Linked DNA regions of Homo sapiens: regions 2 and 3 are each linked to region 1. Evidence: fine-mapped QTL for protein levels in blood plasma. A gene starts in region 1. Each other region holds a variant in brackets. All regions are shown on one strand. Distances are between the middles of the regions. Region 1 holds the start of CLEC10A (C-type lectin domain containing 10A). Region 2 has its middle 6.5 kb from the start of ASGR2. Region 3 holds the start of LOC105371512 (a long non-coding RNA gene).

The links. PIP is the posterior inclusion probability: the model's chance that the variant is causal. The UK Biobank Pharma Proteomics Project read protein levels with antibody pairs (Olink). The fine-mapping took linkage between variants from a reference panel, not from the people measured, so its PIPs are less certain.
Region 2: its variant is fine-mapped to the plasma level of the CLEC10A protein (UK Biobank, PIP above 0.99).
Region 3: its variant is fine-mapped to the plasma level of the CLEC10A protein (UK Biobank, PIP 0.95).

The regions. Positions count from the first base shown.
Region 1 is chr17:7,078,987-7,081,744 of GRCh38, reverse strand. It overlaps CLEC10A (C-type lectin domain containing 10A), which reads left to right and starts at 1,494. Exons shown (of 9, transcript NM_001330070.2): 1 at 1,494-1,693.
Region 2 is chr17:7,119,919-7,122,676 of GRCh38, reverse strand. No RefSeq gene overlaps it. Among named protein-coding and RNA genes, the nearest start is that of ASGR2, 6.5 kb to the right of the region's middle. RefSeq lists a silencer at 736-835. The variant C/T (reference allele first, on the strand shown) is at 1,134.
Region 3 is chr17:7,129,770-7,132,527 of GRCh38, reverse strand. LOC105371512 (a long non-coding RNA gene) reads right to left here and starts at 1,281. Exons shown (of 3, transcript XR_934191.3): 1 at 1,200-1,281. RefSeq lists an enhancer at 1,033-1,570. The variant A/G (reference allele first, on the strand shown) is at 1,266.

The DNA of each region.
Region 1 (2,758 bases):
CCTGTTGGTTTGGTTGAAGCTCTCCAAAGTGCTGGGCTTCTCCCTCTGCCCAGCACCATTTCATCCACTTTCCTTTTCGAAGTGCTAATCCCTAATAAATAGCTTGTACCCCAAATTCAGCCTCAACCTTGGCTTCCAAAAACCGAACCTGCGACATATACTAATCAAAATACCGAATACCAAATAAAAACAAAACTGGCAACGACCTGGCCGGGTGCGGTGGCTCGCGCCTGTAATCCCTGCACTTTGGGAGGCTGAGGCGGGCAGATCATGTGAGGTCAGGAGGTCAAGACCAGCCTGGCCAATATGGTGAAACCCCTCTCTACTAAAAATACAAGAATTAGCTGGGTGTGGTGGCGGGACCTGTAATCTCGGCTACTCGGGAGGCTGAGGCAGGAGAATCGCTTAAACCCAGGAGATGCAGTAGCCGAGATTGTGTCACTGCACTCCAGCCTGGGCAACAGAGTGAGACTCTGTCTCAAAAAAATAAATAAATAAATAAAATAAAAAAGAAAAGAAAAAGAAACAACTTAAATTTCTGATTTATTTCTGTCAATAGAGAAATGCTAAATAAATAAATTACGGTGCCTATGATGAAATGAGGTGCAGGTAGATCAAGTACATTTTATAAACTGATGTGGAGAAATGTTCCTGATAGCTTGTTAACTCCAAAAAAAAAAAAAAAAAGCACATAGCAGAACACAACCCCATGTACATACAAAATATAACCTAAAATGTATTTCTTCTCCTTCTCCACCTTGTAAGATACTCAGTTTCCTTCCTACTGAAAGGGATGTGCGCGTGGATTCAGGGCAGCTCCCTTAGGGGTTGAGCAGGGATCATGGGATGAAATGGAATCCTGTTCATGAAGACAGCGCCTGTGCTGAGAGCCAGAGCAGGGTGCCAAACTGTCTCCTTACAAGCTGTGAGTGATCTTGGGCTCTGAGCCTTTAGTCCGTCATCCAAAATGCCTCCCCAGGTGCTTGGGGGGAATGGTTGTGGAAGGTAAATGTCTGGCATAATCCTATCACAGATTACTCAATAAAATTTGCTCTTTTCCTTGGCTTCTCCCGTCCTATTAGGGCCAAGAAGTTCTATTCTCTGGCACCCCCTTCCCTCCTTCCGAGTGGAGTGAGGCGAGCGAGGCCACAGCTGAGCAGCCGAATGACTGGGACCCAGAGGATGCTGATGCCAGGGACTCAGGCCAGGATTGAGCAAGAGAACAGACTGGGCTTCTCTAGGATCAGAGGTGCGATGATGGAGACCCAACAATTCTGGGAAATGTAGAGGCAGGAAGTGAAAGGAAGTGTAGGGTAGAGGAGCAACAGCAGATTGTACCTCTGATCCAGCCCTGCTCCCAGATGGTAAAAATGAGGAAGCTCCGAGAAGAGGAAAGGAAGTAGGCATGGCCTGGAGGAGGAGAACAGAGCTGGCCTCAAACCCAACTCTCCCCACCCACACATGGTCTCTGTGTGTTCTAATCCCTGTTCATTCTCATTTACTGTCTAAAGTTGAGGAGATGGGATGTCCCAGATGATAGGGCTCCTGGGATTTCAGACCCAAGACCAGCAGGACTCCAGTCACCTCTACCCCAGCTCTCCAGGACACAGCGCTCCCAACTCTGAGTGACGTCCCACCTCTGGTCCTTGCAGCACAACCAACGTGGGAATCACACCCTCCAGACCTCCCACAGGTAATGGTGCTGCCGGTGCCGGTGAGACCCAGGGGACAGGGGATGTCAGAGGAAGCAGGGAGAGGGGGACTTTGGGTCTTGGGTGGGACTAAATGAAAATAAATATAAGGCGGCAGTGTGGGGTTTAATTACTACGTGGAGATTTGAGACTCTGTTCCCTTCACTGGATTCTAGATTGGGTTACGGCAGCCACAATCCCCTGTCATAAACTAAGACTCCGGGAGCTGAGGCAGGAGAATCTTGTGAACCCAGGAGGCAGAGGTTGCAGTGAGCCGAGACGGCCTCGTTGCACAACAGCCTGGGCGACAAGAACGAAATTCCATCTCAAAAAATAAATAAATAAAAATAAAAATAAACTAAGACTCAGACTCAGCCTCATTGGTGGCCCATTTCCAGCCTTATCTTCATCTCAGCCCAGCCATGCCCTAATCCCAATACTAACCCCAGCTTCTACATTTTCTTTTTTTTTGAGACTGAGTCTCACTGTGTCGTCCAGGCTGGAGTGCAACGGCACAACCTCGGCTCACTGCCACCTCTGCCTCCTGGGTTCAAGTGATTCTCCTGCCTCAGCCTCCCAAGTAGCTGGGATTACAGGCGCACACCACCACACCCAGCTAATTTTTGTATTTTTAGTAGAGATGGGGTTTCACCATGTTGGCCAGGCCGGTCTCAAACTCCTGACCTAAAGTGATCTGTCTGCTTCGGTCTCCCAAAGTGCTGGGATTTATAGGCGTGAGCCACCGCACCTGTCGCCCCCCACCCAGCTCCTACTTCAACCCCAACCCCAGAATCAACTTGAATTTTAACACCAGCCCAAAGCCAAAATTGAACCTCGACTCTATTCTGTTTCCAAATTCACCACCAAAGTTAACCCCAATTCCATCCATGGCTCCAACGTGCATACTGACCCCAATCCTAGCATGAGATACAACCTCCAGTCCTGCCTGATTAACTGGCCCACTGGGTAGTCCTAGCAATGCGTTTAGCTCCAACGTTACCCTCCAGTTTCACTCCCAAACTCAACTCGACCCCAATTCTAACTCGACTGCAAACCCAGGCTCATTT
Region 2 (2,758 bases), 41 kb before region 1:
CTTAGCCACTGCTGTCTTCCAAATGCAGTTACATCAGCATCTTTAGTAAAAAAACGAAAATGAAACGTTCACATTACATGTCTATGTAAATGTTATGTCCTGCAGAACCTAGTACTCTATTGTCATAACATTTCTCTTCTTGCATAGTTTCTTTTGCTTTTACTGGAGATATGCCAGTTATTCTAATCTTGCAATGTTTTCCTTAGGGCAGTTTTCTATTTCTTAAAATAAAAACTCTCTAAAATAAGATTCTTCTTTCTCAGGAGGACTTCCTTTGTGGCGTTCTTAGCCACAGTCAGTGTCTTGAGTGTTAACTTAATTCGAATTATTTGCTAAGTGTTATTCTAGCAGACTTACAAATCCCAGTTATTCCATCATGCCCATAGGAGAAGAGGAAAGGGCCAGTGCCCCTCTTCTGATTTTTAAACCGGCCCTATAGTTCCACAGACAGTTTTGGATAAACATAGAACTTGACCCTTCTGCCGTTAAAGCTTGAAACTCATATATATATATATGTTTATTTTTTTATTTTTTGAGATGGAGTCTTGCTCTGTTGCCCAGTCTGCAGTAGGGTGGCGTGATCTTGGCTCACCACAACCTCTGCCTCCCAGGTTCAAGTGATTCTCCTGCCTCAGCCTCCCGAGTAGCTGGGATTACAGGCGCCCACCACCACGCTCGGCTAATCTTTGTATTTTTAGTAGAGACGGGGTTTCACCCTGTTGGTTAGGCTAGTCTTGAACTCCTGACCTCGTGATCCACCGGCCTTGGCCTCCCAAAGTGCTGGGATTACAGGTGTGGGCCACTGTGCCCGGACGAAACTTATATTTGTTTGATTTGAGTTCCTTCCTCAGGAAAGTACCTTCAGTCCTCTCAAAAACGTATAGTAGGTCAGGAGTTCAAGACCAGCCTGACCAACAAGGTAAAACCCTGTCTCTACTAAAAATACAAAATTACCCGGGCGTGGTGGCGGGTGCCTGTAATCCCAGCTACTCAGGAGGCTGAGGCAGGAGAATTGCTTGAACCCAGGAGGCAGAGGTTGTGGTGAGCTGAGATCGTGCCACTGCACTCCAGCCTGGGTGACAGAGTAAGACTCCGTCTCAGAAAAAAAAAAGAAATGTATGGAAGAACTGAAA[C/T]TCACCAGATCACGCACCAAATGCCTCCTTGCACCTCCCTAGTTCCTGTTTTCTGACACATTGTTACATTTCTTCCCTGCTATATAACCCCTGGTTTTAGTCAGTCCAGGAGATGGATTTGAGACAGCTGCCATCTCTTTGGCTGCAGCACCTGATTTAAAGCCTTCTTCCTTGGCACTACTCATCATCTCAGTGATTGGCTTTCTGTGTGCAGCAAAGCCGCAGGACTTAGACTGAACTCCTGATGTTTCGCTAACAATTTCTTTTTTTTGAGACAGAGTCTGGCTCTTTTCTGCCAGGCTGGAGTGTAGTGGCGCGATCTCGGCTCACTGCAATCTCTGCCTCCCGGGTTCAAGTGATTCTCCTGCCTCAGCCTCCCGAGTAGCTGGGACTACAGACACCCGCTACCACGCCTGGCTAATTTTTGGTATTTCTAGTAGAGTCAGGGTTTCACCGTGTTAGCCAGGATGGTCTCGATCTCCTGACCTCGTGATCCGCCCACCTCTGCCTCCCAAAGTGTTGGGATTACAGGCGTGAGCCACCACGCCCGGCCGAAAGTCAGCAGGAATTATAAGTGCCCACCTAGGTTTCCACAGTACATGAGAGAACAAGATGGGGAGTTAGTAAACGTTCTCACTTTGACGGCTTATCATAGGAGAGTCTCTACTGCTTCCTTAAACTCATGTTCTTTTTTTTTTTTTTAAAGACCGAGTTTCGCTCTTGTTGCCCAAGCTGGAGTGCAATGGCGCAATCTTGGCTCACCGCAACCTCTGCCTCCCGGGTTCAAGCGATTCTCCTGGCTCAGCTTCCTGAGTAGCTGGGATTACAGGCACCCACCACCACACCCAGCTAATTTTGTATTTTTAGTAGAGACAGGATTTCTCCATGTTGGTCAGGCTGATCTTGAATTCCCCACCTCAGGTGATCTGCCCGCCTTGGCCTCCCAAAGTGCTGGGATTACAGGCGAGAGCCACCATGCCCAGACCTTAAACTCATGTTCTTTATGGTGACTTGCATTTCCAAGGCCAGGTTCTGGAATTTCACCAGTTTGCATTATAAGAAAAAAAGTCAGCCTGTAGGCAAAAAATACAGAAAAAGCTGAATAAGATTTTCTTTCCTAATAATGAAAAAGGCTTATACTGAGATGTTCTTCTACATGTGTTGTTTTTGGATAATTTCCTCACTTTCTGGGGTAATTCCTCACATGGGAGTAGGAGATAAATAGTCTGAGAACTGGAATATCTGACAGTTCTGTAGCCTCCCCTCTCGTGCCATGGATCATTTGAGTCTACAATTCTAGGTTGAAAAAAATTTTCCTTGGAAGTTTGAAGGCATCATCCTGTTGTCTCTTCGTGTTCAATATAACAGCTGAAAAATGAAATCCATTCTGATTCTTGTTTCTTTGTAGGTGATTTACTCCCACCCCTGGTAGTTTTTGGAATTTTCTGTTTATCCCTGGTATTCTGAAATTTCATGGTGACACGCTTTGGGTCATTTTTGAATGAATGTGCTCGGCTGGGCTATTACTAGAATACCTAAATCTGGAGACTTATCCTTTTTAATTCTAAGTACCAGCCTTGTATTCTTTCTTTCATCTTTTTCTTCCTTTTCTTCCTCTTATTTAT
Region 3 (2,758 bases), 51 kb before region 1:
AAATTGAGCTCTTTTTAGTTCCTCTTTTTCTTTTCTTTTCTTTCTTTCTTTCTTTCTTTTTTTTTTTTTTTTTTGAGATGGAGTTTTGCTCTTGTTGCCCAGGCTAGAGTGCAATAACGTGATCTCAGCTCACTGCAACCTCCGCCTCCTGGGTTCAAGGGATTCTCCTGCCTCAGCCTCCCGAGTAACTGGGATTACGGGCACGTGCCACCACGCCCGGCTAATTTTATATTTTTAGTAGAGATGGAGTTTCACCATGTTGGCCAGGCTGGTCTCGAACTCCTGACCTCAAGTGATCTGCCTCCCTGGGCCTCCCAAAGTGCCGGGATTACAGGCATGACCCACCGCGCCCGGCCCTTTCAGTTCCTCTTTCTACATTGCGCGTTTAACCCATTCCTGCCCCCTCTTCCCGCTCAGTTAACCCTGCTGTCACTTTCTCAGCAGCATACAAAGCTTCTTCAGGAAGCCTTCCTTTCCTCGCCCACAGGCCCTCCCCAGCCAGTGCTGAGTTGATGGTTCTTCCTCCAAGATTCACTATCTACCCTTTTGTTTTTTGAGACGGAGACTTCGCTCTTGGCGCCCAGGCTGGAGTGCAGTGGTACAATCTTGGCTCACTGCAACCTCCGCCTCCCGGGTTCAAGCGATTCTCCTGCCTCAGCCTCCTGTGTAGCTGTGATTACAGGCGCCTGCCACCATGCCCAGCTAATTTTTTTTTTTTTTTGTATTTTTAGTAGAGATGGGGTTTCTCCATGTTGGCCAGGCTGGTCTTGAACTCCTGACCTCAGAGGATCCACCCACCTCAGCCTCCCAAAGTGCTGGGGTTACAGGCGTGAGCCACCGCACCCTGACATGATCTGCTTTTAATCTGACATCTTCTCACTGTTGTCACAGCCACCTCCAGTCCCAAACACCATCGTCATCTCTCTTTTGGGACTTTGGCAACAACATCCCCTGCCAACTCTCACCCCTAAAGGTTCATCCTCATACAGCAGCCTGAAGGTGACTTTAAAAAATGTAATCAGGCTATGTGTCGCCTTGTTTAACTCATCAATAATTCCCTATTTCACAGAGAAGAAAACTCTTCCGGCCTTCCATGCCCTGGAGGTCCCCGTGATCCAGCCCCTGCCTCCCTCTCTGGCCCCATCCTCTGCCTCCTCTGCTTTCACTCACTGGCCTGCTCCCTCTTCCCCAGCACATACCTGCTGTGTAATATGTGAGTGAATGAGCCAGAGACAGGCAGAGAGAGAGCCTGTGGAGGAGGGAAC[A/G]GCCGAAGTACGGAATGAGGCAGATAAACACAGGAAGACAGAGACCAGGGGAAGTGGAAACAGATGGCAGAGAGGCCAGGGAATTCTCTCGTGATTTGGGGAACCCCACTTTCTCCAGGGTCCCACCCCTTGTCTTTGTTAGAATTGGGCCTGGGACAGGCTGCTAGTGGGGTTGGGGCTGATGGAGGTGTGGGAGCCGGGAGCTGGGTTCAGGACTGAGTTCTGGACCAGGCTGGAGATGGGCCGGGGTAGGAACTGGGAATTCGTCCCTTCCCAGGAGTTGGCTCTCCTGGGCTCCGCATTTTTGTGATTGGGGGTGGGGAGGGGGGCTGTCTAGGAGGGTTGGTGTTTCCCCTTTCTCTCACATCTTTTTTGCTTCCTGCTTTTGAAGTTCCCCAAATTGTTGGTGTCTCCAAATTCCCAACCAGGAACTGATGCTTCTGCTCCCATCCGCCAGCCCGAGCTGCAGGAAGCTGGGGCCTTCCTCTGGGGCTCAGGTGCCAGGTTCTCCAGCCCGCCCATATTGACTCCTGTCATTCCCCAGGGGAGTAAATATAAGTCAAGCACCTGAAGCTCAGGGGGAGGGAAGCAGAGCTTTTTCTGCAGCAACTGGAGGAAGTTAAAATGAGTAAAGGAATTGATTTTCTTTTCTTTTTTCTTTTTTTTTTTTTTGAGATGGAGTCTTGCTCTGTTGCCAGGCTGGAGTGCAGTGGCACAATCTCGGCTCACTGCAACCTCCGCCTCCCGGGTTCAAGCGACTCTCCTGCCTCAGCCTCCCGAGTAGCTAGGATTACAAGCGCGCATCACCACACCCAGCTAATTTTTGTATTTTTAGTAGAGACGGGGTTTCACCACATTGGCCAGGATGGTCTTGATCTCCTGACCTCGTGATCCACCCACCTTGGCATCTCAAAGTGTTGGGATTACAGGCGTGAGCCACAGTGCCCAGCCAGTAATTGATTTTCTTTGAGTACCTACCATGAGAGTTAAGGAATTGATTTTCACTGAGCACCTACAATGTGAGGGCTTTGCTTATACAAAAAAAAAAAAAAAAAAAAAAAAGGCTCAGTGTTAGACACTTTGCCTTACATTAACCTGTTTAATACCAACAAGAACCGAGTGAGGCAGGTATTATTATACCCATTTCCAGCTGAAGAAACTGAATATCAGAAACCTTGAGTCACTTATCCAAGGTTCCCTTATGGCTGGTAAGTGGCAGAACCAGAATTCAAGATCACGTTTGATTCTGAAGGCCCTGCCTGGCTTCCCACAGGGAGTCACTTTTACATGCGTCTGACTCTTTTTTTTTTCTGGGTTGGTGCTGGGCTTGGACATTGAGTGGTGAGTAAGGTAGTTCCTGAGGTCAGGGAGCTGGCAGTCCAGACAGGGAGAGGGGCACAAAGCAGGAGCTGAGGCCATCAGTGCCTTCATGCAACACAGATTTATGGGGACAGACCAAGCACAGGTACCTTTCTAGGTGCTGGGGATTTAGG